Linked DNA regions of Homo sapiens: region 2 is linked to region 1. Evidence: fine-mapped expression QTL. A gene starts in region 1. The other region holds a variant in brackets. All regions are shown on one strand. Distances are from middle to middle. Region 1 holds the start of SH3BP5L (SH3 binding domain protein 5 like). Region 2 has its middle 12 kb from the start of TRE-CTC2-1.

Region 1 (16,538 bases):
GCTATAGTAAAGTAGATAAAATTGGAATAGCACAAAAGTAGAATATTTGTTTAGAGGATATCTGAAGATCAACTTCCTTTAAAATACAAATTGCTTCCTAGTCCTTAACCACAATTTTTTGAGTTATGTTATATGGAAATTATGTTCAAAATTCACATCTAGGCTCAGTGGTTCACAAAACAAAACACAGAAAATGAGCTTAAAATCATAAAGCAGAACTTTCAGGGGGAAAATCAGTTTCAAAGTAAAATGCAAGGTAGGATAGAATCAGTTTTTATAATTGAAACCACTTTAAAGGTTAAGAACAGTAGTATAGGGGCTGGGCGTGGTGGCTCACGCCTGTAATCCCAGCACTTTGGGAGGCCGAGGCGGGCGGATCACAAGGTCAGGAGATCAAGACCATCCTGGCTAACACGGCGAAACCCCGTCTCTACTAAAAAATACAAAAAATTAGCCGGGCGTGGTGGTGGGCACCTGTAGTTCCAGCTACTTGGGAGGCTGAGGCAGGCAAATGGCATGAACCCGGGAGATGGAGCTTGCAGTGAGCCTAGATCGCGCCACTGCAGTCCAGCCTGGGCGACGGAGCGAGACTCCATCTCAAAAAATAAAAAATAAATAAAATAAAAAAGAACAGTAGTATAAATAATAATGGTATCACATGCAAACCTGTCGGATCTTTAGAAAGCATTTTGATTTTGGTTATTTTCACAAATTAGAGCATTTAAAATGTAAGTAGATACATTTAATATATGATGTGTTGCTATAAATTATTTTTAAAAATCTTAAATACTTTTGTCTGTGTTTAAAGACTGGTTCCACCACTTAGCAGCAGTATGACCTTGGACAAGTTATTTAATCTCCTTGTCTGTCAATTTCTTCAACTGTAAAATGAAGGTACAATTTACTGTAGTTGGTTTTTGTGAGGATCAAATGAATAAACCAGAACAGTGCCAGGTGCAAGGCATACACTGCATAAGTGTTTGCTGTTTTTATTATGACATGTGATGAGCAACTCGGGGAAGTAATTTACCTCTGGAAAACTCAGCAGATTTAACAAGGGTAAAAATAAAGATTTTTAGTAATACAGGTTTAGGGCAAGCGTGGGGGCTCACGTCCGTAATTCTAATGGTTTGGGAGGCTGAGGCAGGAGGACTGTTTGAGGCCAGGAGTTCACAACCAGCCTGAGCAACATAGCAAGACCCAATCTTTACAAAAACAAAAATCAAAACATTATCCAGGCATGGTGGTGAAGGCCTGTAGTCTTTGCTACTTGGGAGGCTGAGGCAAAAGGATTGCTTGCGCCCCGGAGTTTGAGGCTGCAGTGGGCTATTATCAGGCCACTGCACTCCAGCCTGGGTGACTGAACAGGACCCTGTCTCTAAAAAGTTAAATAAACAAATAAGCGTAATACAGGCTGTCCCTTCCATTAACATTTATTAGTAGATTTTACATTATATATTTCTGGGAGCAAGTTTTCAACTGGATTTTTAAAAAAGTTTTAGGGAGGTATAATTGATACACAAATTACACACTGAAATGTACAGTTTGAAAAGCTCTGACATATATATACCCGCATGAAAGCCTCACTACAATCAAGATGGAGAACATATCCACTACCCACAAGCTGCTTCATGCCACTTTGTAATCTCTACCACCTCCCCACCAGGCAACCACTGATCTGCTTTCTATTACTATATATTTGTCAACTAATATGTTTAATCAGCAATTAATGGTGGTATTTATTAAATATATAACTGATAGTAGAAAAAAGTTAAGAACTATAAAAAGGTAGCTTATGTTGGTAGACAAAAAAAACCTAAAAAAGGTAATTTTTAATGATGGAGGCAATTTAGGGTACTTATGTGAGAAAATTAGAAATAAAAGTTACAAGTAAAAATTTATGAAAAAATTATTTAACTAAGAAGTAAAGTTGATTTGTGATATTACATAGTAATTGACAGTGTTGCTAACATCTTTATATGGCTTTCATATTTTTACATTTCACTCATAAAGTCAGTCTATAGGGATTGGTTGGTTGTTTATTAGTGCCAGGAACTAGGAGGGATCCTTGTGGCAGGATCCATATGTGGCTATTTAAACCTGCTCAAGAGCTACACATGACTAGTAGCTACCATATTGGACAGTGCAAATATAGTAACTTCCATCATTGCTTAAGTGCTACTTTAAGCGCTGATTTAGAAGACTTCTGAGGTATGTGATCTATGATGGAAATGAGGAGAGTCTAAGCTGAAGCTATGGCAATGAGATGAACAGAAGGCATCTCTCTGAGATACTTAGTGTGATGAAAAGCAATGTGGGGGGTGCCTTCTAGGTTTTTCCGTAGGGTAAAGAGGTGGACTGTAGAACCGCTTACCAGCATTGAATGTCAGAAGAGCAGGATTTGGCAAAGGGGATGAAATCAGATTTGGATCCATGAGAGAGGGGCAACTCTGGGACAGGCCAGCGGTATCTCAAAGGCTGAAGGATCTCAGAATGTGATCTGCGGAAAGTCTGTGAAGACAGAGCTCTAAGGAAGGAACAGTAGCCATGGGTAAGGACTACAGCCATGCACTAGGGTAAGGACACTCAGGGAAAGTAGGCAGCATGAGATGGTCAGAAGCTAACATCAGGGCCTGGGGTACAGTAACATTTAGGACAGGGTTTTCAAACTGTGAATAGGTAATGAAATCAACAAGAGATCTCCACCAGCATTTAAAAATAGTATAAAAATATTAATGTGCTTTACATATAATTTGGGTAAAGATCTTTTCCTGTACCTTTTTTTTTTTTTTTTTTTTTTTAGTATTTATTGATCATTCTTGGGTGTTTCTCAGAGAGGGGGATTTGGCAGCGTCATAGGACAATAGTGGAGGGAAGGTCAGCAGATAAACATGTGAACAAAGGTCTCTGGTTTTCCTAGGCAGAGGGCCGCCTTCCGCAGTGTTTGTGTCCCTGGGTACTTGAGATTAGGGAGTGGTGATGACTCTTAAGGAGCCTGCTGCCTTCAAGCATCTGTTTAACAAAGCACATCTTGCACAGCCCTTAATCCATTTAACCCTTAGTGGCCACAGCACATGTTTCAGAGAGCACGGGGTTGGGGGTAAGATTAACAGCATCCCAAGGCAGAAGAATTTTTCCTAGTACAGAACAAAATGGAGTCTCCTATGTCTACTTCTTTCTACACAGAGACAATAACAATCTGATCTTTCTTTTCCCCACATTTCCCCCTTTTCTATTCGACAAAACCGCCATTGTCATCATGGCCCGTTCTCAATGAGCTGTTGGGTACACCTCCCAGATGGGGTGGCGGCCGGGCAGAGGGGCTCCTCACTTCCCAGACGGGGCGGCTGCCGGGCAGAGGGGCCCCCCACCTCCCAGACGGGGTGGCGGCTGGGCAGAGGGGCTCCTCACTTCCCAGACGGGGCGGCGGCCGGGCGGAGGGGCTCCTCACTTCTCAGACAGGGCATTCGGTCAGAGATGCTCCTCACACCCCAGACGGGGCGGTGGGGCAGAGGCGCTCCCCACATCCCAGACGATGGGCGGCCGGGCAGAGACGCTCCTCACTTCCTAGACGGGATGGCGGCCGGGCAGAGGCTGCAATCTTGGCACTTTGGGAGGCCAAGGCAGGCGGCTGGGAGGTGGAGGTTGTAGCCAGCCGAGATCACGCCACTGCACTCCAGCCTGGGCAACATTGAGCACTGAGTAAGCAACACTCCGTCTGCAATCCCGGCACCTCGGGAGGCCGAGGCTGGCGGATCACTCGCGGTCAGGAGCTGGAGACCAGCCGGGCCAACACGGCGAAACCCCGTCTCCACCAAAAAATACGAAAACCAGTCAGGCGTGGCGGCGCGCGCCTGCAATCGCAGGCACTCGGCAGGCTGAGGCAAGAGAATCAGGCAGGGAGGTTGCAGTGAGCCGAGATGGCAGCAGTACAGTCCAGCTTCGGCTCGGCATCAGAGGGAGAGCTCGGCATCAGAGGGAGACCGTGCAGGGGAGAGGGGAGAGGAGAGAGGGGAGAGGGGAGAGGGGAGAGGGGAGAGGGGAGAGGGGAGAGGTCCTGTACCTTTTTAATGAATATATTTACACACATATATGTATACTGGGTTGCAAGGTAAAACATATATCTGAGTTGTCTTCCAATTAGTTTGAATCTCACCAGTTTATAAAATGAGCACCATCGGCTGGGCGTGGTGGCTCACACTTGTAATCCCAGCACTTTAGGAGGCTGAGGCAGGTGGATCACTTGAGGTCAGGAGTTGGAGACCGGCCTCACCAACATGGTGAAACCCTGTCTATACTAAAAATACAAAAAAATTAGCTGGGCGTGGTGGCATGTGCCTGTAGTCTCAGCTGCTCAGGAGGCTAAGGCAGGAGAATCACTTGAACCTGGGAGGCGGAGGTTGCAGTGAACTGAGATCGTGCCATTGCACTCCAGCCTGGCGACAGCGTGAGACTCCATCTCAAATAAATAAGTAAAAATAAGTAAATAAATAAATAAACAAAAATAAAATAAAATGAGCACCATAGACTATCACCTACATGGGAAGTGAGATAGTGTCCTTTTTCTCATCATTGCCTGAAATTCTGGCACGTAATAGGCACTCCGTAAAGACATATTGCATAAAGGAATGAATCAACAAGCCAGAGAAGAGGAAACCCAGTACCAGGGTGACTCAGAAGCTAAATGATAAGAAAAAAGAGAGAAATAACCCAGTGTCAGATGTCAGTGATGTGGCAATATTGAGAGCATGGATGACCTTATCTTTGTAATTCCTATGAATTGGCAGCATCCGGAGCCAGACTGTAGGGGTGAATGGGAAGGGAGGAAGTGGAGAAAAGACAAATGATAGTGGAGACTGAGAGGCTGTTTGTTTTGTATTGAAGATGTGAAAGTTCAGTATGTATTCTGGAGAAATTATATAGAAAAGGCAGGTTCTAAAAACGTGCTGTCCAGGAAAGGAGAAACTAGCTACACAGAGCTATTTAAATTAAAATAAAAAATACAACTTCTTAATCACAGTAGCTCCATTTCAAGTTCTAAATGGCCACATGTGTCTACAGACTACCATACTGTGCAGAGCTGATTAACATTTCCTTCTTTGCAGAAAGGTCTTTCAGACAGTGCTGCTGTAGACAAAAGTTTTAATTCATCATGTTTGTGCTGGCTTCAATAAACAAGTTCAGGTTAAATCAATGCACAGCATCGCCCAATCTCTTCCTACCCAAAACATTATCCAAACCCAGCAGAAAAACTATTGTGGGATTATATCACAATCTATACATGATAGATTCACATGTGGTCTCAGTGGGTGAGAGTTAACCTTGGAAGAGGCCAGTGGAGACTTTAAAGGAGCTGCTAAATCTCAGGATGTGATCTAGGGGTCTGGCCATTATATGTATTCATAATGTTTTCCCACCAAAGATCTGTGACACGTAGCAGCAGTTTGTGATTGCTAAGCATTACACAGAGAAAAGGAGCTATGGGATGGGGTATAAGAATGACAGGTATTGGAGCAGTGCTGAATAAGAAAGGTTAGATAATTCAGGCTAGGGTAGACAGAACATCCTGGGTAAAATGAGGTTATTACAGTGAAATTCTAGTTCTACAAAAGTAAAGTGACTGGTAGACAACAAATAAATCATGTTTATCACCTTATATTTAATTTTTATGGTTTTTGTATGGCACCTTAATAATAAAAAGGACTGTGGTAGAAGACTGAGGCATTATTATCCATCAAAGCTGTCCACTTAGACAATGTTACTCAAGGTCCTGCTGACTTATTGAAATTAGAAAAATCACTTTTGTAATTTTAAAAACAAAACCTCCAATTTAATGGAAAAATCTGTTTTCAATCACCTCTTTTAAAGGAATATATTTTGCTCTGCTCAATTTAAAAAAATCGTTATTCATGGGATGAAGGGATAGAAGAAATGGACTGAGAACTGTAGAACTCTTGGCACATGACTCCATCCAAACCTCTGAGTTACTAAGAGACAAACTTTAGCATGCCTTCTAGCAGTGTCAGATCATGTCCCTAGGAGAACCCCAGCTCCCCCATGAAAATGCCTGCCTGAGAAAGCTCAATGCTACCAGGAGAATTTACTATTTGTTCTAGCCAACACCTGATGATAGGCTCCTGACCTCCCTTTCTCAGGGCGTTTATTAAGGGCTTACCATTATGAATCCTTCCTTCTTCTCTTTAAGGTGTTTATGCGTCTGCTACAACTCAAGAGGTCCTTCTAAAGGACCTGAGAGCCATTCCTTTGAAATTGATCGTCAAGAAGGGCAGAGCCTCTACCTCCCAATCTCAGTGCAAGAATAGCAAGCTAGGCTGGGCGTGGTGGCTCACGCCTCTAATCCTAGCACTTTGGGATGCCCAGGCGGGTGGATCACCTGAGGTCAGGAGTTCGAGACCAGCCTGGCCAACGTGGCGAAACCCCGTCTCTACTAAAAATAGAAAAATTAGCCAGATGTGTTGGCATGCACCTGTAATCCCAGCTACTCGGGAGGCTGAGGCAGGAGAATCTCTTGTACTCGGGGGTGGGGGTGGGGCGGAGGTTGCAGTGAGCCAAGATCGCGCCATTGCACTCCAGCCTGGGCAACAAGAGTTAAACTCCGTCTCAAAATAAATAAATACATAAAAAAGCACTCTAACTTCTATAGCTGCTAGCTAGCAGACACATCTGGCCGAATCGCATCTATGCCAATCAAATCTGTAATTTTTCACTTCTCCAACACTATTGAGCCCTGATCACCTTCCTTCCTTCATTCTCCCTTTGAAATGCCCAGTCACTTCTGTACAAATCGGAACAGAGGTCAGTTCTTTTCCTTTCTGTAAGTAGTTACTGAAAAAAGTCTTTTTCACTGCTTCAATGTCTAGCTGGGTTGTCTTTGACAGGATCCAAAAAGGAGGGGAATTCAGCCCATTTGCCTTTTCCATCTGCAGGGCAAAGTTTTGAGTTGACTCTGAGGAAGTTACGCCTTTTGTAAAAACAAAACATCCAACCCTGAATGAAGCCCTTCCCCTTAGGCCTAGGCCCTCCCCTCACCAAGCGACACCTAGAGGTGACAAGCAGGCGCTCGCTCAGGGACCTAGGTAACGATACACAATGCCATGTAACAAACTCCTGCTCATCGAGGGCATCTGACCCTGGGTGCACGAGTGAATTAACTGAGTTAATGTTGACTAAGTTCCTGGTTAGTATTCACGGAGCAATTGGTGACCCCACCAAAACGTCGTTCAAGGTGCAAGGTCCAGAGGCCTCGAGGAGTGGGATTTACACATCGGAGCCGTCCGCTCAGACGCCGTTAGTGGAGGGTTCCGCCGACTTCACGGGAGTGAGGAAAGTCACTTTTGGAAATCGACTTTGCCTTCGCCCGCGAAGCCCGCCAGCGTCCGGACTCGAGTTGCCCCCGGAGCCACTGCCGGAAGTTTACCAGCTCACTTTCGGCGTCGCGCCCGCCTCCGTGGAGCAGGCCGGAAGTGGCTTTCCGGCAGCCGCCGCCGCAGCTCCGTAAAGCAAGATGGCACTACTCACTCTGAGGCTATTATCTCCGTTTTATATCTAGTATTCCTCTTCTCACCAGTTACTCTCGATTTCCGTCCCGCGCCCTAATTTTCTTCAGCACCACATTCTCATGTTTTTCTTTCATTCAGCCTTGGTGGAGTATGGTCTGGAGGCAACCTACGGCTAGCCTGAGCAACGTGGGGCACCATTTTGTACGGAAACTGAAGGCAGGGCGGGGGAGTGTGAGGCCTCCCGAGGAGGCCCGGCTTGAGAGAGAGCGTGGGAGGGAGAGCGTTGTTCACCGATGATGTATTTCCGCTTCTGGTCTGCCTGGTCGTTTTTGGTTGGATCGGCTTGTTGCGGGGAGGGAGGGGGGGAGATTGTTTGCAGCATAGAAGCTCCGCGGACGGGAAGGTAAACTGAGGTAAGGCTGTGCGGGGGGCTTTTGCGCATGGCTGGGTAGAATGGACGGGAGTAGGGTCCTTGGGATTGCGGAAGAGTGTGGAATTGGAGACGGGAGGCTTAGATGTCTCGGGTTGGACAGAGAAGGTGGGGTGGGGCTCGGGGTTACAAGGTGAATCGCAAAGCCGGGCTGGGGTGGAGTGGGACGAGCGGGAGACCACAGGAGATGGAGGAGAGCCTAGGGGTGCAGAGGAAAGTCTCGAAGGCGCTGGTTGAGGAGGGCCTGGGTCGAGAGGAGCTGGGACGGGGGAAGAGTAGAATCTAAAGTCCTTGAGGGCTAAGGAGAGAAGTTGAGGTAGGGACTGGTCGGAATACATGGGTGGGGGCGTGGTGAGAGTGTAGTTTTTGGGAGGCTGTAGAGTTGGAAGGGGCTGGTGGCTGCGGTTTTGATGCTGACATGACCATATACTTGGCCTTTGTTTCTCTGCAGCTCCCCAGAGACGCTCATCCTACAGCCTCAGCTCGGGCCCAGCCTTCTCTCTCCAGCTGCCACCACAGCCTGGAGGCGCCTGCCTCCACCCTCCCGAATGGTGCTCCTCCTAGCAGGCCTCGGTCCAGGATCCAAGCCCCCTTTGCCCCCTGCCTTGGAGCTGTTGCTCCGGGTTTGTCACAGTGGACTCCCTGTGGCGGGAAGGGAAGAACTTTTGCACAGACAAGGCTTCAGCTCTAGGAACCCCACTGACAACTTGAATCTCAACCTCTAACCTAGTGTGAGGTTCTTCCTGTGCCCACCTTTTCTGCCTTTTGAGAAGAGAAACTCTTCTCCTGGCCATCTAGAGCCCAGGAAGCCCCAAGCTGGGGCCCTGGTCCCAGCATGTCAGTCCTCTCTTGTGCATAGGGCTCTGCCCTCCCCCTGTCAGCATGGCTGAGCTCAGACAGGTTCCAGGAGGGCGGGAGACCCCACAGGGGGAGCTGCGGCCTGAAGTTGTAGAGGATGAAGTCCCTAGGAGCCCAGTCGCAGAAGAGCCTGGAGGAGGTGGAAGCAGCAGCAGTGAGGCCAAATTGTCCCCAAGAGAGGAGGAAGAACTGGATCCTAGAATACAGGTGAGAGCACTGAGAGCAGGGAGAGAAGGAGAGCCCAGATTCCAGCCTCCCTGAAGAGTGTTGGATGAATGAGGGCTTAGACTTACTCTGTCCCCAGTCTGCTGGGGCAGGAAAGGAGAACAAGTTTGTCAACAAATCATTGCAGGGTAATGTAACAAGTTCCAAAAGAGTTGTGTGTCTGAAGTGCTGATGGAGTGCAGAGAAAGGCCTGGCCTTAGTGCTTGGGAGGCATTGCTGAAAGCTTCACTGAAGGAGCAAAGTGTCACTTGGCAGTAGATGGAGGAGGCACACTTTAGGTCAGTGGAGGGTAGGTGTGTTGTACTTCTTTCCAGATAAGCAGAGGGGCTGCCACCTTAGTTAGGGATGCTGTGTGAGAGGAGATGACTTTGATACTGGGGGACAGTTTTGAGGCTGAGTGAGAGAATCTTTTCCCCTTTCTCACCTTCTCAGCGGTACCTTCCAGGGATGTGCGGCCCACATTGCTCTGATAATGTGTTTCACCCTTGTAAACAGTGAGACCTTTCCAGTGTTATAAAGGTAGCATCAACTTTAGATCTATAAAGAAACCCCATATGTTCAAGGATTTGTAACTTTTGTTGTGGCCAATCCTTAGTAACATACATACCTGGCCCTCAGGATAGTGGGTCTCCTAAAGGAATGGAAGAGCAGTTTATTGCCTTGGAGTGTCTACAATCTAGTTGGTAGGACAGGCAGATCTTTGTGTAGGAGACCTGGGGGTAGTCAGTGAGGAAGACCAACTCCATGTGGAAGAGATGCCTGGCCAATCAAAGCTGGGTTGCAGTGTTTCAGGGAATTGGCTGAGAATGACTTCCTGAGGAAGCTTCTTGGGCAGGTGACGACCAGGATGCTCCTGCATGTTTGGGGCTTGAGTCTGCCATTTGTTCCGGTCACATCTCCAAGACTCTGATGTTGTGGAAGTGACTCTTCTGTAGGTGAGCAAGAACATATGAAGGCTCAAATTCCTAGGCTTATCTGTCAGCAAACCTTTATTGGATTACTCCAGTGAGTTGGGAAGAAATCAAAGCCAGTCCTGGCATTCTTCCTTCACTCTCTGTGTGGGTTCCTGGGATATGTGTGTGTGTGTGGGTTCCTCTTCTACTGTGTCCATGCTTATAATGGAGCAGTGGTGAGCCATTTGTTTCTGGCATGAGTCAGTAATTTATTTCTGCTCTGCCTGACATTGCATTGAAAACAGCCAATTTTTCTTGCTATTTCTACAGATTTATCATCCTCTGAGGAAATCAGTTGTAGTGAAAAAAGTCTTGGGCTGAGTTTCACGCTACCTCCAACCCCATGATTTATGATTTTTATGGAAGTTTCTTTACGTTTCTGAGCCTCAGTTTCTTCATCTGTAAAGTGAGCAGTTGGTCTAGCTGATTTGCACAACTCATTCTTGCTCTGCTCTGACACAAGTCTACAGTTCTTTCTCAAACTCTTTTTGCTTGTTCCTTGGTGATAGTTTGTAGATAGCACTTTGGGAAAGAGCTGTCTCTCTGTTGCTTGTGGAGGAGGGCTGTGTAATGTGCATTATATGCCTCCCTACAGCCTTCCTTGCCCTGCTCCAGAGAAGGCTTCTGCAGAGGAGAATCCACTGTGGTCTCTTTACTTGGCCTCTACTACTCCTATGTATTTTTCCAGTGTCTGCATAGGCACATGGTAGTAGTAGGAAGAGTCATGCTTGCATTGTGCTGTCTAATAGGGTGGACTAGCTGCATGTGGCTATTTAAACACAATCAATTAAAATTAACATGTAAAAATGCAGTTCCTCGGCCAGGCATGGTGGCTCACACCTGTAATCCCAGCATGTTGGGAGGCCGAGGCAGGTGGATCACCTGAGGTCAGGAGTTTGAGACCAGCCTGGCCAACATGGTGAAAACCCGTCTCTACTAAAAATAAAAAAAGCTAGCCAGGTGTTGTGGCGGGTGCCTGTAATCCCAGCTACTTGGGGGGTTGAGGCAGGAGAATTGCTTGAACCCAGGAGGCGGAGGTTGCAGTGAGCTGAGATCTGCCACTGCACTCTAGCCTGGGTGACAAGAGCGAAACTCCGTCTCAGAAAAAAAAAAAAAAGCAGTTCCTCAATGTTATACTGACAGTGCATAAATAGAATATTCTGTCATCACTGACTCTTCTATCAGATGAGCTCTATGAGAGTTGGAGTACACTGAGGTAGCGTAAGACTTACTTTGCCTCCAGTGAACTTGTGATGTCGCTGGTGCAGGAAAGGTAAAGCAGACCCTCGTCTCTCTTGCTAAACTGCACAACACGTTGTGGAATGTTGTGGGTTGTATAGGGAGGAAAGGTCTAGTAATAGCTTCCCTCATTTGATGACACAGGTGTGGGTACGCCAGTGCTCTGACCTCAGCAGGGAGTCAGTGTCTTCTTGCTGTGTGAGAGAGGCAGCCTGGCTTGAGGGGCACCCTTCACGGAGGAGGCCGGTGGCATTTTGCCCTTCTGTGCTTGGGCTTTCAAGATGAGGAGGAGATTGGGGTGTTTGTCTTTCGAGGTCCCTTTGAGTGTTGACAGTTCACTAGACCATGCACATTGCTCTGATCATGTGTTTCAGTGCTTTAGGTGGGTGTTCATTTCTCTGGATTCTCAGTGCATTTACTGGGTTTCCATCCACCGTCCATAAAAAGCCACCAGGGAGCTTCAAAAATACCCTTACCTGAGCCTTTCCAGACATGTGGATTCTCTTAGTCTGGGTGGGGTGAGAAGGGATTCTGATGTTACAGTCAGAGCCAAATCCACTGGGCCAGGTATATCCCAAAGGTAGAGCGCCTGTTTCGGTATTTTCTGAGGCTCCCGGAAATGGCTGTCCTTCGGATGAGGCCCTGTCTGACCTGGGGCTGGGGCTCCTTTGCAGGCAGGCAGCTCCATGGCCATTTATGGTGGGATTCCTCTGGAAGTTAGAAGGAAGTCAGCTGGTGCCTACCTGGAGCGTGCTGTCCCTCCAGGGAAGGCTGCTGGCTGTGTCTCCTTGTCATGATCTTAGTGGAGTTCTTTTGAGTCCTCCAGGCTCATCCTCAGCTTTCCGAGAGGGTTCCAGTGGAGGGAAGAGGAAAGGAGCGTGGATCTAGGATGGACCTGGGTCTGTTCTGTGACTTTCTCAGCCCCCTCTTAGTGGTTGCATTCTTTCCTCAGATGTGAGTGCTCTCGTTTACCTGCTCCTTTCCAAACTCTCTAGGGTGACTTTGCAACCTCTGTGACCTCATCTAGAAGTATGGGTTTAGCTTTCACAGGACAGTCATCACCCTGGCCCCAGTTACCATTAGTTTGAGTCTTTTGATGGTCTGCACTAGGTGGGGTGGGAGCATCTGCAGCCTGAGTCCCCATGCCTTTGATTCAGTGTCCTGGCATCCTGGGAATCTGACTGCTGTGCCCTGGGAAGGTCACCCTCCCTGCTGGCTGCTGGCTCACTGATGGATGATGCACGTTGATTCAGACTTTGTCCTCCCCAAATTCCGTTTCAGCTGAGTGCCAGGAGTCCCTGGTGAAGCAGGCCAAATGGAATGTGTTGCTGACTGCCCAAAACTGTCCCAGGTCCTCAGTGGATTCCTGCTCAGCCTTTCCCTGGGTGTCGCCTAGGTGGGCTATCCCCCTCCCTCCTGTGGTGACCTTGCCCTCCAGGCTGCTTTGCTCCCCAGGCATCTTCTTGTCCTGTTAGGGAGAGCTTTGTGACTCTGAGGGGACAGATCCCATCAGCAGATGGCTTTCTGTAAATTGCTGGAGGTGCCACTGGGAAGCTAGTTCCCATATAGAAAGATAATGCCCACTCCTGCCACTTGCCAATAGCAACAGCTCTTCTTGTCCTTTTAACAGTAGTAACAACTTATGCTGAGCCATCCAATCCATTGATGATCTTGTCAGGAGCTGGAAGTTGATGACTGGAAGCATTTGAGGCCATGGAATCCAGTGGGGATCCCGTCTTGGACTTTGATTTGCCACATGAACATTGCAGGGTGGCCTTTACCAACTGACCCCCCACAATCAATGTTTGTTGCATTTCCAATCCCTGTCCTTTTCCTACGTGGGCTGTGGTTTTCCTAGATTACAGCACTTCTTTCTTTACTGAGATGTCCTTCCAGTGGTGTCCTCATTCCCAGGAGGGTGGTCACAGTGGAAGGAAAGTGAGATCAAAGGTCGGTCCTGGATCCAGACCCAAGTCTGTCACTAATTTTCCGCCTGGTTGTTTCTCATCTATCAAATGCAAAGTTGCTGAGAAAGAATATTCCAGCAGGAGGTGCTGAAAGAACTGGTCACTCGTCTCCCAGATAGCCTAAAAGCCCCTGTAGGCCTCGTCAAGCCCCAGGAAGCTGGGCCCCCAGGGAGGTAGGTTGCCTTTCAGCTTGACAGACATTGCCTTTTTAGGGCCTGTTGGGGTGATCGTGTCAGTTGCTGGTGATGTCTCTGTTCGGAAGGCACTGTGAAACTTGGAGTTCCATGTGTCTGGTAGTGTTGATGCTGACCCTATGCCTCCTCTGGGGCCCTGAGCTGTGTTGGCTGCCTGTTCTTCCAGAATGGTTGTTATTTTATGGACACTGGGTTGTGGGACACTGTAGATGCATCTACCCAAATACAACAACTTCTAGACCTTCGCCACCCAACACAGGAGCCACATGCCACTGTCTAGGTTGAGATGTGTCACAAGAGTCAAGTGCATACGGATTGTGAAGACTTAGTTTAAAAAAGTAAAAGTATGGATAATAATATTATTTTATGTTGATCACATGTTGAAATATATTTTGTATATATTGGGTTAAATGTATTTTTATAATTTCACTCTTTTTTTAAATTTTTTTACTTTTAAAAAATGTGGCTTCTAGAATTAAAAATTCCATGTGCAGCTCCTGTTACGTTTCTGTTGAATAAGTCTCTTCGAGAAAATTTAGAGCAAGCTTTTCCAACCCGTGGCCTGTGGGCCGCATGCAGCCCAGGATGGCTTTGAACACGGCCCAATGCAAATTTGTAAACTTTTCTTAAAACATTATGAGATTTTTTTTTGTGATTTTTTTTTTTTTTTTTTTTTTTTGAGACTGAGTCTTGCTCCTTCACCCAGGCTGGAGTGCAGTGGCACAATCTCAGACCACTGCAACTTCCGCCTCCCAGATTCAGGTGATTCTCCTGCCTCAGCCGTCCCAGTAGCTGGGACTACAGGTGTGTGCCACCATACCCAGCTATTTTTTTGTATTTTAGTAGAGATGGGCTTTGCATCATGTTGCCCAGGCTGTTCTCAAACTCCTGAGCTCAGGCAATCTTCCCACCTCGGCCTCCTGAAGTGCTAGGATTACAGGTGTGAGCCACTGCGCCTGCCCACGATTTTTTTTTTTTTTTTTAAGCTCATCAGCTGTAGTTAGTGTTAGTGTATTTTATGTGTGGCCCAGGACAGTTCTTCTTCCAGTGTGTCCCAGGGAAGCAAAAAGATTGGACATCCCTAGTTTAGAGCCAGATTTGTGGCCCTCCTTAGGCAGGGTCTACACTGTTGTAGGTAGGTGTGTGCATTTTCATATCCTCATTCCTCGTTCCATTACAGGTTTCTACCTTTGTGTTCTTCCTGTTACTGTAATTAACATGTCAAACCATTTCCTGTATTCTTACCTGCTGACCCAGATCTTTTCAGGATCAAGGCAGGGGATGGGGGGAGGATAGAAGAGGTAGAAGGGACTAAAAGGAAGATTGTGCATGTCAGCCTGACTCCCTCACTGGGTTGCTGAAAGGCCCGAATGAGGTGAGTGGGGGCCAACATCACGGCCATATGAGTGGGAAGTGATTGTGGTGTCACTGCCAAGTGCAAGTCATGGGTCTGGGCAGCAGGCACATGCTGGGCTGGGTCTCTCTGGCCTGTCCAGCCTCCTGTCCAGAGACAGCAGGGGCTGGTGAAGGCAAATCCTATAGCTAGGCACCAGGTATTTCCTGGCACAAGGCCCTTGGCACAGACCAGCACTGCTCCTCAGTAGTGTCCTTAGCTCACCAGGGGCTCTGGGAACTTTTGTGTTTTCTCGGGCAAGGGAGGATGACTTGAGGCCAGTACCCCTCTCAGCTCTCTTCCATTTCATGGAAAGCCCTGGATGGTTCTATTGCTTCTCTCTCCAGTCCTTCCAGGGGCCAGGAAGGCACTCAAACCAGCTTGTCCAGCAACTTTTCCCCAGGACTCTCCCTCCCTCCCACAGGATCTGCTCTATAGGGACCTGCGGTCATGGTCACCCATTGCCCAAGCAGGCCAAAAGGCTTCTTGGACTCTATACACTTTCCTGATCTTGACCTTAGTCATCCACCAAGCCCCTGTGATTCTGTGTCCTGCGTTGCCTTGGGATCTGCCCTCTCCTCTGCCACCTGGAATACTATAGACAGCCTCCACCTTTTTTTTTTTGTTTGTTTTTTGTTTTTGTGATGGAGTCTCACTGTGTCGCCTAGGCTGGAGTGCAGTGGCACGATCTGGGCTTACTGCAATCCCTGCCCCCCGGGTTCAAGCCATTTTCGTGCCTCGGCCTCCCAAGTAGCTGGGATTATAGATGTGTGCCACCACGCCCAGCTAATTTTTGTGTTTTTGCTAGAGACAGGGCTTCACCATGTTGGCCAGGCCGGTCTTGAACTCCTGGCCTCAAGTGATCTGCCCACCTCTGCCTCCCAAAGTGCTGGGATTACAGGTGTGAGCCACCATGCCTGTCCCAGCCTCCACTTTTGTCTCCCTGGCTCCCCCAGGCTTTCGTTACATTGGCACCAGGCTCTGAGAGACCCTTTTGCCATTGCAGAAAGTCCTGGTACTACCTCCCATAGTGCTGTAGCCTTACTGACCTTCTCACCTGCCAACTTGTCTGCCCAGGGTACCTGCTCCCCTTTGGTTCCTTGGCCCTTTGTTCTTCACTGGCACTTTATTTTTTTGAGACAGAGTCTCGCTATGTTGCCCAGGCTGGAGTGCAGTAGTGTGATCTTGGCTCACTGCAGCCTCTGCCTCCCAGGTTCAAGTGATTCTCCTGCCTCAGCCTCCCAAGTAGCTGGGACTATAGGTGCACGCTGCCACACCCGGCTAATTTTTGTATTTCTAGTAGAGACAGGGTTTCACCATGTTGCCCAGGCTGGTCTCAAACTCCTGACCTCAGGTGATCTGCCTGCCTCGGCCTCCCAAAGTGCTGGGATTACAGGCGTGAGCCACCTTGCCTAGTCATTCACTGGCACTTTTGTGTCTATGAAGTCCTTCCAGCTGCTGAGCAAGTGTTCCAGGCATCCTACCCTGACCTTCTGCTGCCCAATTAGGTGACCTTGCTACCCAGAGAGCACCCACACCCACCCCTCACAAGGCTGCACATACTGCCCAGGACCTGCTGCTGACTTGCTGGGTTTCCTTACAGGCTGCCACCTCTATGTCCTGAATTCTCAGGTCTCACGGTCCTGAGAGGTGATAAGTGTGCAGTAAACATGTGCTGACTGAGTGGCCCTGCCCTGGCCCAGGTGGCCATCCTCTCGCAGAGAGCGAGCCTTCAGGTCCAAGGAGACTCCCTCAGTTT
Region 2 (16,538 bases), 61 kb before region 1:
CAGAGCGAGACCTCATCTAAGAAAGAAGAAAGAAAGAGAGAGAGAGAAAAGGAAGGAAGGAGAAGAGGAAGGGGAAGGGGAAGGAAGGAAAGGAAAGCAAGCAAGCAAGCAAGCAAGCAAGAAAGAAAGGAGGGAGGGAGGGAGGGAGGGAAGAAAGGGAAAAAGAAGAAAAAAGAAAATGTGTATATTCATTACAGTGAGTTTTGACTTATTAAAGTGAAAGAATACAGGTTAAAATCAGCAAAGGTACCCATGCATACATTGTCAGCTGATGTTTAACAAGAGTGCCATGAATACACAATAGGAAAATGATAGTCTCTTCAATAAATAGGGAAAATTGTATATCCACATCCAAAAGCATGTAATCGGAGTCTTGTCTTACACCATACACAAAAATTAACTCAAAATGGATTAACCACTAAAACGTAAGTTATATAACCCTAAAAATCCTAGAAGAAAACATAGAAGTAAAGCTCCTTGACTTTTCTAGGTCCAGGCAATGATTTCATATATCTGACAGCAAAAAGACAGGCAAAAAAAACCACAAAAAAAACCCAAAAATAGACAAGTGGGACTATATCAAACTAAAAAGTTTCAGCATTACAAAGGAAACAACCCATAAAATAAAAAGACAACCCAAAGAATGAGAGAAAATATTTTCAAAGAACATATCTGATGATGGGTTAATTTCCAACATAAGGAACTCCTATAAATAGCAAAAACAAAAATAACCTGATATAAAAATGAGCAAAGGACCTGAGTACACACATTTCTCCAAAGACCTACAAATGGCCAGGGCCAGCAGACATATAAAAAGATGCTCAACATCACTAATCATCAGAGAAACAGGAATCAAAACCACAGTGAAATATCATCTCATACCTGTTAGAATGTCTTTAATCAATCAATCAATTAACAAAAAAGAAAAGAATGTTGTCAAAGATGTAATGAAAAGGGAAACCTTATACATTGTTGGTGGAGATGTGAATTAATACAGCTATTATGGAAAATAGAATGGAGTTTCCTGAAAAAAAGACTTAAACTAGAACTGTCAAATAATCCAGCAATAACACTTGTGGGTATGTAGCCAAAAGAATAAACATTAGAATCTTGAAGAGGTATTTGCACTCCCATTGATAGTAGCATTATCCACAATAGCCAAGATATGGAAACAACCCAAATAAATGTCCATTGAGAGATGAGTGGATAAAGAAAATGCACATGTGTATACACAAACATACAGACAACAGAATATTATTCAGCCTTTTAAAAAGAAGGAAATCCTACTATTTGCAGTCATTTAGATGGACTTGAAAGACATGATACTAAATGAAATAAGTCAGTTACAGTACGACAGATACTGCCTGATTCCTCTTATATGAGGTATTTAAAATAGTCAAACATATAAAAAGTAGGCAATAGAATCCTGGTTACCAGGAGATGGGGGAGAGGGATATGGGGAGTTGTTATTCAATGGATATAAAGTTACAGTTACATAACATAAGTTCTGAAGAACTGCTGTACAACATAGTGCGTAAGTTAACAATAAGGTTTTGTGCACTTAAAAATGTTAGAGGATTTTTCTCATGTTGAATGTTCTTATCGAAAACAACAACAAAGGGATAAAAGGAAACTTCTGAAATTGATGGATGTGTTCATTGCCTTTACTGAGGTGATGGTAACATGAGTATGCACCTATGTCCAAATTGTATACATTAATTATGTGCCATTTTCTGGATACCAATTATACCTCAATAAATCTGGGAAAAATAAATGACCAAAGGTAAAACATATAGAGTATCCAGAAAAGACCACAACAGACTTCCAGTTGTCTTTTCCCTGTGCAGTTGTATAGACAGTGCTTAGTTTTCCAAGCAACAACGTATGACAATGCATATAGACAATTGTCAACCAGGGAAGGACACTCAAGCCTGGGTGTCCAGAGTTTCTCTCAGAGGTGAGTCAAATAGATATGATTGACTACCTGAGTGGTTAGCCTGAGTCTCCAACCCATCCAAAGGTCAAGCTGGTACTGCATGAGTCAAGGCCCACACCATAAATCATATTGTTCACATAGACTGTCTGGGGTAGCCCAAGCTGCAAGTAAATAAAAACACTTTTATCAGGCAGGATATTCCAAGGGCTTAGAGGTAGCTTCTTAATAGCCAGGTGTGAAAGAAAAGAAAATTTCAGGACCCTCTAAATATATTATGCCAAAGGAGAAGTTAAGTCCCAGAGATTGAATCACATAGAATGTTTACAGTTGTGCTTCTTAGATTACAGCTTAACTCTCTTCATTTTTATTCTTGTTCTATAAATGACTAGGAGACCAGAAACCAGACCTTCACGCCTCCATCCAATCACTGATTTTTTTTTTTTAGATTAACTGCCTCCTTTATTGTCCTGTAACTAACTCAGACCAGATGACACCCAAGTCCCTCTATGACCGTTACATCGTCAGGGTAGAATGCTAAATATGCCTTTCAAAGAAAGAAATAAAGTAAAAGGAAGAAAGGAAAGAAGGAAGGAAGGGAAGGAAGGAAGGAAGGAAGGAAGGGAGGGAGGGAGGGAGGGAGGGAGGGAGGGAAGGAAGGAACAAGACTACCTTGACCTACTCAGATTGTTGTAACTATGCATTAACCCTTATATAGAAAGATGTTGAAAGTCTGTTAAACTTCCCCATGCTTTGTCTATATAAGCAATCTCAAATCTACAGTTTGGAGCACTGACTTCCATTCTTTGGAATCTGTGCTTCCCAGGCAGGCCTGTCCTCAACTTTGTGCTTGAATAAACTCTCTTTAAACTAGATTCTGATCCTTTTGGTTATTTGGGGTTGACACAGGCGACGCCTTTTTTTCTGCTGAATCAACCCTTTACTGCAAAGACTTCATAAAGAGCTTAGTTTTCATTGTGTTAGTCATTACCTAGAAAGTATAAATTAGCTATAAAGACTTTATTTACAAGAGATTGGACTTTTCTTCAAAAACACTTTTTTTTCTTTTTTAAAAAGACAGGCTGTCATTCTGTTGCCCAGGCTGGAATGCAGTGGCTCAATCTTGGCTCACTGCAGCCTCAACCTTCAGGGCTCAAGCCATCTTCCCGCTTCAGCTTCCCTAGTACCTAGGAATACAGGCATCTGTGCCTGGCTGATTTTTAAATTTTTAGTAGAGATGAGGTCTTGCCATGTTACCCAGGCTGGTCTTGAACTCCTGGGCTCACGCAATTCACCTGCCTCAGCCTCCCAAAGGGCTGGGATGACAGGTGTGCACCACTGTGCCTGGCCCAAAAATATTTCTTAAAAGTACTTTAGACATTCTCTTGTGGCTCTTCATCAAAGTATATATCTCTTATTAAGCAAAAGAGATGACAAATCATTGAATCAAGCATTCTCAAAATTTATATCATGAAACCCAAAAAGTATAACCCATATGCCCCACTCACAATCACAAATTTTCTCAAAAATATCTACAGCACAGCCAGTCTACACTGTCCTCACCCACCGAGTTCCCTCTGTTGTCTGGCCTCAAATTGGATTTGTAGAGAAGAGGCTAATACTGTTATCTCAGTCTAGTTGGCTACAGGCAGGGCTGCCCCACCTTGAGAGAACCATTAATGTAGTGGGCAGTGTCCAGCACTCTAAAAAATAAAATGAAAGACAAAACAAAATGTTGGAGCAACACATCTGACAGAGACACATTTTGTTTGCATAACTTTTTTTCAGTTATGTAACCATGAGTGTATGTCTATGTTACCATGCATGCGTCAGTGCGTGAGTGATTTGTGAGTGGTATGTGCATGCCTGCGTGTATATTGTGGGTGTGTGGTGGGTGGTGAATGTGTGTGTCTGTGATGTGTGATGTCTGTGGTGTGTAGAGAGGTGTGGCTGTGTCGGGGGTGGGGAGGTGTGGTGTGTGGTGCATGTGTGTATCTGTGATGCATAGCATCTGCAGTGTGATGGGGGGCTGTGGATGTGTGGGGAGGTGTGTGGTGTGTGTGGGTGTGTGTGGTGTATGTTGTGTGTGTGGTGTGTGGTGCGTGTGTGCATCTGTGATGTGTGGTGTGCGGGGTGTGTAATGTATAATGTGTAGTGTGGGTGGTCTGTAGCGTAGCTGGGTGTGGGTGTGTGTGGGGGTCGGTGTTGGTGTGTATGGTGCATGTGTGTATCTGTGAGGTGTGGTATGTGTGGTGTGTGTATAATGTGTATGATGTGGTATGTGTGTGGTGCATGTAGTGTGTGGGGTGAGTGATTGTAAGTGGGCTGAGTCCTTTCATGACATGGATTACTTCTGTAGCCCTTAGACTGGTAAGAGACCACATGGTTTGTGTAGAATAGTCAGGAGCCAGGCAGCCTAAACTTGCATCTTGACACTGGCTCATAGGAACTTTGTGACCTTGGGCAAGATTCCTAATCCCATTGCATCTGTTTCTTCGCATAAAAACGGTGAACACAATAATAGTACCTGTAAGAATTAAAGAAAGAGGAGAGAAAGATGAAGGGTGGCTCGACAGAAGACAGGTTTATTTCAGAAAACAAACCTGTGGGGACTTCTGACCTAGTTAGGGCAGAAGCTGCACTCTTGCAGAGTAAGAGTTTTTAAGGATTCAGGCCGGGTGCAGAGACTCACGCCTGTAACCCAGCACTGTGGGAGGCTGAGTCAGGCGGATCACTTGAGGTCGGGAGTTTGAGACCAGCATGACCAACATGGAGAAACCCCGTCTCTACTAAAAATACAAAATTAGCTGGGCGTGGTGGCGCATGCCTGTAATCCCAGCTGCTTGGGAGGCTGAGGCAGGAGAATCACTTGAACCCGGGAGGTGGAGGTTGTGGTGAGCTGAGATCACACCATTGCACTCCAGCCTGGGCAACAAGAGCGAAACTCCGTCTCAAAAAAAAAAAAAAAAGAAAAGAAAAAGAAAAGGATTCAGGGTGGGAGAGTTTATCAGAGGCTTGGACTGCTTCTGTGACTCTTTGTTTTGCCTATCTGGGAGGGAGAGTTGTGTCTGTTCCCATACATTTTTCTGCAGCTGCAAGCATATCCCCCGAGTCTGCCTTTAGCTTCCCTGTCTTAGAGCACCTGAAGGGAAAGGAATGTGCTTATTAAGGCCCACTGTTTTACTGGGGCTCCAGTGTATGAGGGTGAAGTTTGGCAGTTACCTAAGAGACTTCCTCCCCTCCTTTCCCTGTCCCCGAGCTGCCTTATCTGTGTTTTACTGTCTGCTCTTTTCTGGCTGCTTGTAGTTAGAAGATAAGTGATTTCCTTGAAATGCATGAAGCTAGAAAGGGAGCTTGCAGTGTTTGTTTGAGATGACGGTGCTCCTGCTCTCTCAGTACCTATCTCATAATTTGTCGTAAGAATTAAATGAAAACAATATTAAACGGAAAACATTTAGTACAGTGTCCGGCTCAGTAAGTGTTATTTATTTATTTATTTATTTTCTTTTTGAGACGGAGAAGTCTCGCTCCGTCACCCAGGCTGGAGTGCAGTGGCATGATCTTGGCTCACTGCAATCTCTGCCTCCCAGGTTCAAGCGATTCTCCTGCCTCAGCCTCCTGAGTAGCTAGGATTACAGGCACGCACCACCACATCCAGCTAATTTTTGTATTTTTGGTAGAGATGGGGTTTCGCCATGTTGGCCAGGCTGGTCTCGAACTCCTGACCTCATGATCTGCCCACCTTGGCCTCTCAAAGTGCTGTGATTACAGGCGTGAGCCACAGTTACCGGCCCATGTATTTCATTTTTTATTTTTATCATTCTTGTTATTGTTGCTATTATAAGTCATAGTCAAAAGTAAGAAACACTTAGAATGCATCAAAGCCAGTGTTTATGGGAAAAGGACTCCCTATTCAATAAATAGTGCTGGGAAAACTGGCTAACCATATGCAGAAGAATGAAATTAGACTCCTACTTCTCAGCATATACAAAAAATAAGATGAATTAAAGATTTAAATGTAAGACCTCAAACTATAAAAAATCCTAGAAGAAAACCTAGGAAATACACTTCCGGACATTCGCCTTGGCAAATAATTTATGACTAGGTGCTCAAAAACAATTGCAACAAAAACAAAAATTGACAAGTTGGGCCTAATTAAACTAAAGAGCTTCTGCACAGAAAAAGAAACTATCAACAGAATAAACAGAC[A/G]ACCTACAGAATGGGAGAAAATATTCACAAATTATACATCTGACAAAGGTCTAATATCCAGAATCTATAAGGAACTGAAACAAATCAACAAGCAAAAAACAACTCCATTAAAAAATGAGCAAAGGGCATGAATAGACAATTTTCAAAAGAAGACATAGAGCCAACCAATATGTAAAAAAAGTTCAACATCACTAATCATCAGAGAAATACAAATCAAAACCACAATGAGATATCATCTCACACCAGTCAGAATGAGTATTACTAAAAAGTAACAATATAACAGATGCTGGCAAGGCTGTAGAGAAAAGGGAATACTTATGTGGGAATGTAAATTAGTTCAGCCCCTGTGGAAAGCAGTTAGGAGATTTCTCAAGGAACCTAGAACTACCATTCAACCCATGAATCCCATTACTGGGTATATATTCAAGGGTAAATATATTGTTCTACCAAAAAGACACCTGCGCTCATAAGTTTATTGCAGCACTATTCACAATAGCATGGATATAGAATCAACTAGATGACCATCCACGGTGGATTGCATTAAGAAACTGTGGTACATATATACCATGGAGTACTACACTACCATAAAAAAAGAATAGAATTATGTCCTTTGCAGCAACATGTATGCAGCTGGAGGTCATTATCCTAAGTGAATTAACACAGAAACAGAAAAGCAAATATCATGTGTTCTCACTTAGTAGTGGGGGCTAAACTCTGGGTACACATGGACATAAAGTTAGGAACAACAGACACTGGAGACTCCAAAAGGAGGCAGAGAGGGAGAGGAGCAAGGGCTGAAAAACTTCCTATTGAGTACTATGTCCACTGTTTGGGTGATGGGATCAACAGAAGCCCAAAGCTCAGCATCACACAATCTGCCCTTGTGTTAGGTTGGTGCAAAAGTGTTTGTGGTTTTTGCCATTGAACGTAATGGCAAAAATCGCAATCACTTTTGCCACAACCTAATGATAAACCTGCACAAGTACCCCCTGAATCTAAAATTAAAATTAAATTTTTTACAAAGCCATTGCCTTCCATCAAGCCAGTTTCTTGTCCAGACTGGAGCATTCTACTGGTTTGGTGTGTTTCGCTCCCATCATCTCCTAACTGAAAACTCATTTTTGCTAATTAAGAATAACATCATTACTAACAAGATGGATTGGTATTATATGCCTCCTGATATAATGCTCTGGGAAGCGTACAATATAACTTCTGTGGCACTCTTGCCAAATGCATGTCCTCTATTTAATAATGAACAAACAGCCAACAAACTCAAACTCAGGGCCATTCAACAAGACAACTGAGTAGAACTCCTAAAAAGCGTCCAGGTCAAAAAAGACAAGGAAAGACTGAGGAACCATCAGAGATGGAAAGAGATTAAGAAGATGTGTCAATCAAATGCAATTTGGGATCCTGGATTAGACATTAGTGAGAAAGCTGGGGAAATTTGAGTAAGGCCTGTATTTTAGTCAATTGCGTTGTATCAGTGATAACTTTCTGGTTTTGGAAACAATACTATGATCAGGTAAAATGTTAGCCTTAGGATAAGCTGAGTGAAGGCTATATTTTTTTATAATTTTTGTAACTTTTCTATAAGTCTAAAATATTTTCAAAATAAATAGTAAGCTTATGTGTGTATAACAAATACATATACATATGCATGCATAAAAACATACATAAATATTATATATCCTGTAATCCTGAGTACAATATATATCATAATGGGCAGCCAAACCACTGGCATGCTGCAGAGTTTTACCCCCTTGAGATTTTCTAATTAGCTTGCTCTTTGGAAACCTGTGATCCTTTCACTACAGGTTTGCTGTTGACTGCTTTATCACAGGAAGTAAATGCTTTTAAAGTTTCCTTTTGAACCCTCCAAAGAGAATCCCAAGAAACGCCAGTTAATAAGAGCTTATTATGGTGATCCCTCAACTCCTGCCAACATTCCTCATTCCCAGAAGACCAGGCTGGGGCCACACAGCTGGAGCATGCATTCACAAAGTGCTGTCTCCCCAGGCAGAGGAAGCAAATGGCAAGAGTCCAGGATGAGTCTAAGGGCAGCTGGGCAGTTTAAACTCCAAAAATGCAATTCTCCAACATGAAAATCAGATTCCCCAACCCCCACCTTTTATCCCAATGTCTAGGAAGATATTTTTCTTCTCTTTAGCTGCTTTTTGTTCAATATCTCAGTGGTATAATTTGAATTCAAACAGATCAATCTTTCAGATGGAGTACAAATGATCTCTGAAGGAGCTCTGAAAGTAATTAATCTCTTGTACTAAATCAACAGTCATCCTCACTTCTCAGCACAAGAAAGCAATTAGTCCCAGAGGTGAGAACTCATTTAGGTGATCACCCTAAGACTGATTTAGATAATGATATTTCTATGAATAATGTACACTCAAGTATCAGGCTGGTGATATTGATAACTCATACATTCCTATTTTTATTTTTTTGTCTTTATGGTAATAAAATGTAAATCTTCCTGAAAAAAACCTAGCATGTAGCAGCCACTGAGAGATCTGTCTTCATCACTTTCCTCGTTTGGACATGGGGCAAGTTGGTGCAAACCAGAGTTAACATCAACAAGGCCTTTCTTTGGTAACCATTATTTGCACAAAATATCATAAGACACGTTTCTTATTTTTTTTTTCATTCATGATTTGTATCCTTGTAACACCTTAAGACAAATTACTGAGGAGTAAACTGACAGGGTAGGAAAGTTCACTTTGTAGAAGGAAGACATTATGTTCTAATGGCAGATGTGAAAATGTGATACATAGTTCCATCTCAAGGCCTGCATGTGTTTATTTAGCAACTATTTGCATGTGTAGCAGGTTATTCAAATGCATCTCTGCTTTACTTTGAATTGCCAATTTAGATACATCAGATATTACAGATCTCTCAATGCAGAATTTAGGAAGGAAATGGCCAGGGAACTGGTCCGTGATTCCTCTCTTATGGTCAGCTTCAAATATATAAAGAACAGGATGAGTGTGGGGGTTATAGAACTGTTAAGATAGTCTTCATCAAGCACTGTTTCTCCTGGGGTCCCTACCCTCACTATCTTTAAGTGGGATAGAGTTGGTTGGAGGGTGCATTCATTAGTCCCATGTCTAATTCAAAGGAGGTCTAGCTTCTGAACCAAGACTGGGTTTTGAAATTAAAATAATTGTGGCTCTGTTGGGTACTATATTAATTTTCTATTCCTGATGTAACAAATGTAAACTAAAAATAAAATTTTTAGCTGAGCATGGGGTCACACACCTGTAGTCCTAGCCATGCAGGAGGCTGAGGTGAGAGGATAGCTTAAGGCTAGGAGTTCAAGACCAGTCTGGGAAACGTAGCAAAACCCCATCTCTACAAAAAAAAAAAAATTAAAAAGTAGCCAGACATCGTGGCTCATGCCTGTAGTCCTAGCTACTCAAGAAACTGAAGTGAGAGAATCACTTCAGGCCAGGAGTTCAAGGTTACAGTGAGCTATGATTATGCCACTGCACTCCACCCCAGGCAAAAGAGTGAGATCCTGCCTCTAAAAAAATGATAATAAAATAAAATCCTAAGTCCTCCAATGACAGAAGAGACCCCTTGTGGCCAAGGGGACTGCAAAAAAAGTCTGCAGTCTCACTTAAAAAACTGAGTTCTGGCCACTATGAGATGGGAAGTAGGATACACCTCATTTTACCCTCTTCCTTTTAAATTTAAGGCACAAAAACTGACCAGGATTCATCTGAAAATAGAGATCATAAGACTGACAAAACAGACTCATTGTGGTAATGAGATATCAAATTATAAACAAGACCTAAGACCATGCCAGGCATGACTTAAGGCACACCTGCAGGTCATTAATCTTGCTACATAGCATTATTATCCTAACTTAAAACATTTCTTTCTGCTGACTCCAAGTTTTAGACAGAGCTTTACTCATTCAACTGAAATTAAAGAATCTCTGAATCTATCTATAACCTATAAGCCCCTGCTTCAAGATAGCCCACCTTTTCAGGCCAAACCAATGTATACCTTCCATGTATTGATTTGTCTTTGCCTGTAACTCTTGCTCCCTAAAATGTGTTTTTAAAAAACTATAATGAGGTGGGCGGATCACCAGGTCAGGAGTTCAAGACCATCCTGGCTGATAGGGTGAAACCCCGTCTCTACTAAAAATACAAAAATTAGCTGGGCATGGTGGTGTGTGCCTGTAATCCCAGCTACTCAGAAGGCTGAGGCAGGAGAACTGCTTGAACCAGGACCCAGGAGGCGAAGGTTGCAATGAGCCGAGATCGCGCCACTGCACTCCAGCCTGGGCTACAGAGCGAGACTCTGTCTCAAAAAAAAAAACACAAACAAAAACGAAAAACTGTAATCTGATCACCTCAAAGGCACTTTCCCAAGACTCCTTGAGACTGGTTTCGTTGGGCTGAAATCACTTATATTGGCTTAGAATAAACCACTTTAAAATATTTTACAGAGTTTGGTTTTTTTCATTAACACAGCTTAACTCAAATTTTGTGTCTTACTAGCCATATGCAGAAGAATGAAGCTGGACTCTACCTTTTACAAAATTAGGACTCTACCTAATTACAAAAATTAATTCCAGATGGATTAAATATTTAAATATAAGACCTCCAACTATAAAAATCCTAGAAGAAAACCTGGGAAATACTCTTCTGGATATCAGCCTTAGCAAATAATTTATGACTAAGTGCTCAAAAGCAATTGCAACTAAAAGAAAAATTGGCAGGTGGGACCTAATTAAACTAACGAGCTTCTGCACAGTAGAAGAAACTAGGGTCGGGCACGGTGGCTCATGCCTGTAATCCCAGCACTTTGGGAGGCCGAGGCGGGCGGATCATGAGGTCAGGAGATCGAGACCATCCTGGCTAACATGGTGAAACCCAGTCTCTACTAAAAATACAAAAAAATTAGCTGGGCATCGTGGCGGGCGCCTGTAGTACCAACTACTTGGAAGGCTGAGGCAGGAGAATCACTCGAACCTGGGAGGCTGAGGTTGCAGTAAGCCGAGATCGTGCCACTGCACTCCAGCCTGGGCGACAAGGCGACAGGAGCAAGACTCTGTCTCAAAAAAAAAAAAAAAAAAAAAGAAAAAAAAAAGAAACTATCAGCAGAGTGAACAGACAGGCTGGGAGAAAATTTTCACAAACTATACATCTGAAAAAGGCCTAATATCCAGAATCTATAAAGAACTGAAACTGAAACAAATCATCAAGCAAAAAACAAATAACTCCATTTAAAAATGGGCAAAGGACCGGGTGCAGTGGCTCACACCTGTAATCCCAGCACTTTGGGAGGCCGAGGCGGCGGATCACCTGAGGTTGGGAGTTTGAGACCAGCCTGACCAACATGGAGAAACCTCATCTCTACTAAAAATACAAAATTAGCCAGGCGTAGTGGCACATGCCTGTAATCCCAGCTACTCGAGAGGCTGAGGCAGGAGAATCACTTGAACCTGGGAGGCGGAGGTTGTGGTGAGCCGAGATCCCGCCATTGCACTCCAGCCTGGGCAACAGGAGTGAAACTCTGTCTCAAAAAACAAACAAAAAACAAACAAACAAAGAAATTCTTTAAAAACTAGAAACCCTCCAGGTGCAGGCTATAACACTCAAACCTGGGGATAACAGACCATATGAACAATTAGCTATATACAAATTGACAAATATATACATACATACCATTTTTTTAAGGCTCTGGATCACAAGTAAGCTTTCTAAAATATAATGCACCACATTCTGACATAAACATTTGTAGGGAGACCCCCTGAAACTATTGCTACGGAATAAAAGATGAAATGCTCCTGATTATTGTAAATACAAAATTGCATGCAGGATTGTGTAAAGACAATGCCAGGTTGGACTGCCAGAACGAGCCAACAGTGCATGATGTGCTTCCCCCTGCAGAGAGCCTATGAATGGACGTGCGGTCAGGGAGGTTTCACATCACTAAGATTCCTATCCCAGGAAAACAGATGTTCATAGCTCTGGGAATGGAATGCAACCCTTGTGGAGAGCCTATAAACAGACACATGAGGGGCGCCTGTCCATATGGATAAGATAGGGCTATAAACGCCCTCATCTTGCCACGGCTCTTCTAGGCCTCTTTAGGGTTAAGGCATACTCCCTTCTGAGAATTTCTGGTCTAACCGATTGTCTAGCTTCATGTCCTGTTTCTATGGATTGTTTGTAACCAGCTTTTCCTGCAACTGTTACTGCTGATTAATATCTTGCTAATCATAGGTAATGGAAATACTGTGTTTCTGTTTTAAGGCTCTGTTAGAAATTACTGATGCACACACTATATTGTAAATTCTTATCTCTGTATACTGTACTTCTGCATACAGATGTTATGTTAAAGAATTACTTCATCCCCATGTGACCATCTAACCTCATAATCAAATGACCCTAAATCCCTCACTAACCTACCCCTGCCCTCACTAAACTTAATAATAAATGCTGGTATATCCCGTGCATTTTTGGCTCCGTGGGACCAGAAGGCGGTGACCCCCCTGGACCCAGCTTTCACTATCTTGTGTGTGTCTATTATTTCTCAACCTGCCGATCTGCCTGGGAACAAAGAGAGAGCCCCATTGCATTGCGGGCTGCTGGCCAGATCCCACAATAAACATTCATACAGAAGGACTCAGAGGTAAATAAACTTGAAGCTTTCTTGCCTCTGCTTCTATACTGCTCTATGCACTTTTTACTGCTCACCCAAATTATAAGACATTACAGGAATGAATTTTATTCCAAATCTTTTTAACTTATATTAAAGGAAACTAGAGGAACTAAAATTTTCTAACCTAGTTCAAATTAAAATGAAGTCCATAACACTGTCTACACCACAGCAGGTTACATGCACCAAACAGTACTCATTAAAGGAAGGACTTAAAGAAATAACAGCAAAGATTGTAGAACTCCTCAAGGAAGATATTATTACAATTGTCATTTCAAATAACTTTAATAGTTCAGTATGGCCTGTCTTAAAAACAAACAGGAGCTATAGATTAACTATTGACTATAGAAATTTAAATAAAGTCTCAACTAAAATGCCAAGAGCATTACCAGATGTAGAAGAGCTAGTTAATAAGATCATTAATCATAATGACAAATACTATACAATCATAGACATGTCAGATGTGTTCTTTGCCAAACCAATAAATAAAGCAAGCCAGGAATATACCAACTTTACATGGGAAGGTAAACAATACCAATTCAAAACATTACCACAGGGATATCTAAATAGTTCAGTAATAGTTCATTCCATTTTGTCATCACACATAGACCAATCAAAATATACATCTATAACAAGAAAAACTTGGGACCGTGATGTGCATCCCCCAAACTGGAAAGAAACCAAGAACCAAAGAATGACTTGGACAAGTCCAGCTTGAGAAGTAAATGAATGTATTTGGACTTACATACAGGGACTCCTGGATGGTGGTAGGATAGCTCTAGAGATCCACACCACCTCTCATTTCTAAACTGCTTAAGCTAATTTTCTGGCTCTTTGCCTACTGTGTTTAAGCAATGAGACTGTTTTTCTCGGAAGGTTCTCAGATACTCCACGGGATGTTTGGGCTCTCAGGGACCCCTGCTCCTAGGCTGGGCACCATGGCTTTGGCTCACTGCTCAGTCTCAGGGTTCAGGCAGCAGATGCATACCCTTAAGTAACCTGGTGGGAGACACATCATGCTACAAGTCACTAATAATATTATACAGAGATAACATCATAATGCTAAATAATGACTAGGGAACAAATTAAACAGGAAAAAATCCCAATTAATAACACATTTAAGATTATTGGGATAGACTATTAATATAGATAAAAACACAAGCCCAGACACCAACTGCAAATTTTTAGGAGTCCGATGGTCATCAGAAGGGAGAAAAATCTCAACCACAGTAATAGATAAAATAAAAGCCCTTAAGCTGACAAAAACAAACAGGAGGAACAAAGACTAACAGTTTTATCTGGATATTGGAGACAGCATACACCTTACTTAAACATCATCTTGGAACCAATATATCTAGAAAATCCCAAGACTTCACATATGGACAAGAACTTGAAACACTCAAAGACTACATTAGCACATTTCAATCACTGCATTACCCATCTTCAGATTCACAACTTGGGTTGAAAGTTCTGATGAGTGATGAATATAGAACATGATCATTATGGACATAGAAACTAGATTCTAAATCTTTCCTACTGGTTGGATTTCAGATAACAAAATTCCCATACTCGAACAACAAATACAGCCCATTCAAAAATACATACGGCTTACACATGAAGCCCTAACCACTAAGCATCTGACTGGCAACAACAACATTACAAAAAATGTCATATGCCTTTTCTTCACTGGATAAAATTGAGTCCTGGAAAACTGACAGGTATCCAAATTGGTCCAAAACTGCTCACATGGAATGGATACATCCAGGGTGGAGACAACAGCTTTGAGGGTCAATCAGGTCTTCTCATGGAGCAGATTCACAAGACAAAAATAGACTTGCCAGAATGTATTCTGAAGACAAGAAAAATCTGTGACAATATAGGAAAATGGGTCCTGGTCTCGTTTAATGTCTTGCCAAACACCTGGTTTATGGAAGGATCAGCTTCCATGACCCAAAGGCCAGACCCATTGAACAGCAGAAGCACTCAGACTCCAGGACCATATAATCCTGAAGGAGTCAAATGAATTGCTCTCTCCACAGCATGCAGAACTGATTGCAGTTGTTAGAGCATTTGGACACTCAGTATCAGAAAATCAAAAGAATATATATATGTGTATATATTTACAAATTCATGAGCAGTCACAACAACATAGCCCCATAATCACACAAATGGAAACAAAATAATTTTAAAATTAATGACAATGACATATGGTCCGAATCTTACTGAGAGGAACTATATAAATCATCAAACAGAATTAAGATATTTATGACACATATCAGCATACCAAAAAGATAACTTAGGCAGGGCACAGTGGCTCATGCCTGTAATCTCAACACTTTAGGAGGCTGAAGTGAGAAGATTGCTTAAGCACAGGAGTTGGAGACCAGCCTGGGCAACATAGCAAGACCCCTGTCTCTACAAAAGATAAGAAAAAAAATTAGCCATACGTAGTGGCACACGCCTGTAGTCCTAGCTACTTGGAAGGCTGAGGCAGGAGAATAGTTTGAGCCCGGAAGGTTGAGGCTGCGGTGAGCTGAGATCACGCCACTACACTCAAGGCTGAGTGACAGAGAAGGATCCTATCTCAAAAAACAAAAAATAAAAAGATCATTCAAAGGCCACCAATTTAATAGATAATTAGATGAATTAACAGGGAACATAACAATTGACACACAAAATGTACCCAAATTAAAGCTACACAGAAATCCGCACAACTCATGAAGACATTCATCGCCACCTCTACAACTCAGAAGAAAATCAGACTATGAATGGGAGATACCCCAAGTACCCCCAGTAGCCATAATAAAACAGCAAGATGAATTTAAAATTAAACAGGCGCTGTGAGCAGCTTACGCTCTACAAACATTCTTATAATTACATAAGCAGAAAGGACATTTAGGCACACACTCACTGTTCAGGTGGCTGTTAAGACAAATCAAAAGGTAACGACATCAAATTTAAAAGGCATATAGCTAATTGTGAGCAATGTAAAACTAACCTGGAGAAATATGGATACACTAAAGCATAGATACACACAAACCCAACACCTTTAACTTCTGCCTACAGATAGATTTTATAGGACCATTAAATCACTCCAACCAACAAAAATATGCCATAACAACAGTGGATACATATACAGAGACTGGCATAGCAATAGCGGCGAGCCACCCATTTGCCAAATACACCATCTTAGCCATAGAAAATTGGGCAGTGTACTATGGAGCTTCTAAAATAATTGAAAGTAACCAGGAAACTAATTTTACATCAAAGACTACAGAAGCATTAGCAGATAAATGGGTTATACAATGGAATTTCTGCATACCTTATAATCCCAGTGCAGCAGAATATAAGGAGAGATTAAATGGACTACCGAAAAGAGAACTTAAAACCTTAGACAAAACGAGCACATTCCAACAAGCTCTTAACCTGGGGTGTTTTAATTTAAATAAGAGAGAAAGTCTTTATAAGAGCAACCCCCACTCTTACCTTAATCAACTGCCTTTATGGTCATAAAGGATGTGGAAGCAGGTGCGGTGGCTCACGCCTGTTATCCCAGCACTTTGGGAGGCCGAGGCGGGCGGATCACGAGGTCAGGAATTCGAGACCAGCCTGGCCAACATAGTGAAACCCCATCTCTACAAAAAATACAAAAACTAGCTGGGCGTGGTGGCGGGCCCCGTAGTCCCAGCTACTCGGGAGGCTGAGG

Evidence for each region. PIP is the estimated chance that this variant, and not a neighbour inherited with it, causes the effect.
Region 2: its variant is the best candidate, but not a certain one, in a credible set for the expression of SH3BP5L in whole blood (INTERVAL, PIP 0.60).

What each region holds. Positions count from the first base shown.
Region 1 is chr1:248,817,230-248,833,767 of GRCh38, reverse strand. SH3BP5L (SH3 binding domain protein 5 like) reads left to right here and starts at 7,853. Exons shown (of 7, transcript NM_030645.3): 1 at 7,853-7,933; 2 at 8,402-9,015. The coding sequence starts at 8,833. It overlaps MIR3124 (microRNA 3124), which reads right to left and starts at 7,391; the gene lies at 7,325-7,391. RefSeq lists enhancers at 7,162-7,261, 7,332-7,381, 6,957-7,507, 7,492-7,751, 7,508-8,059 and 2 more and a silencer at 14,584-14,878.
Region 2 is chr1:248,878,293-248,894,830 of GRCh38, reverse strand. It overlaps a transcript of PGBD2 not described here. Among named protein-coding and RNA genes, the nearest start is that of TRE-CTC2-1, 12 kb to the right of the region's middle. RefSeq lists a silencer at 4,467-4,761 and cis regulatory regions at 4,956-5,412, 9,635-9,847. The variant A/G (reference allele first, on the strand shown) is at 6,143.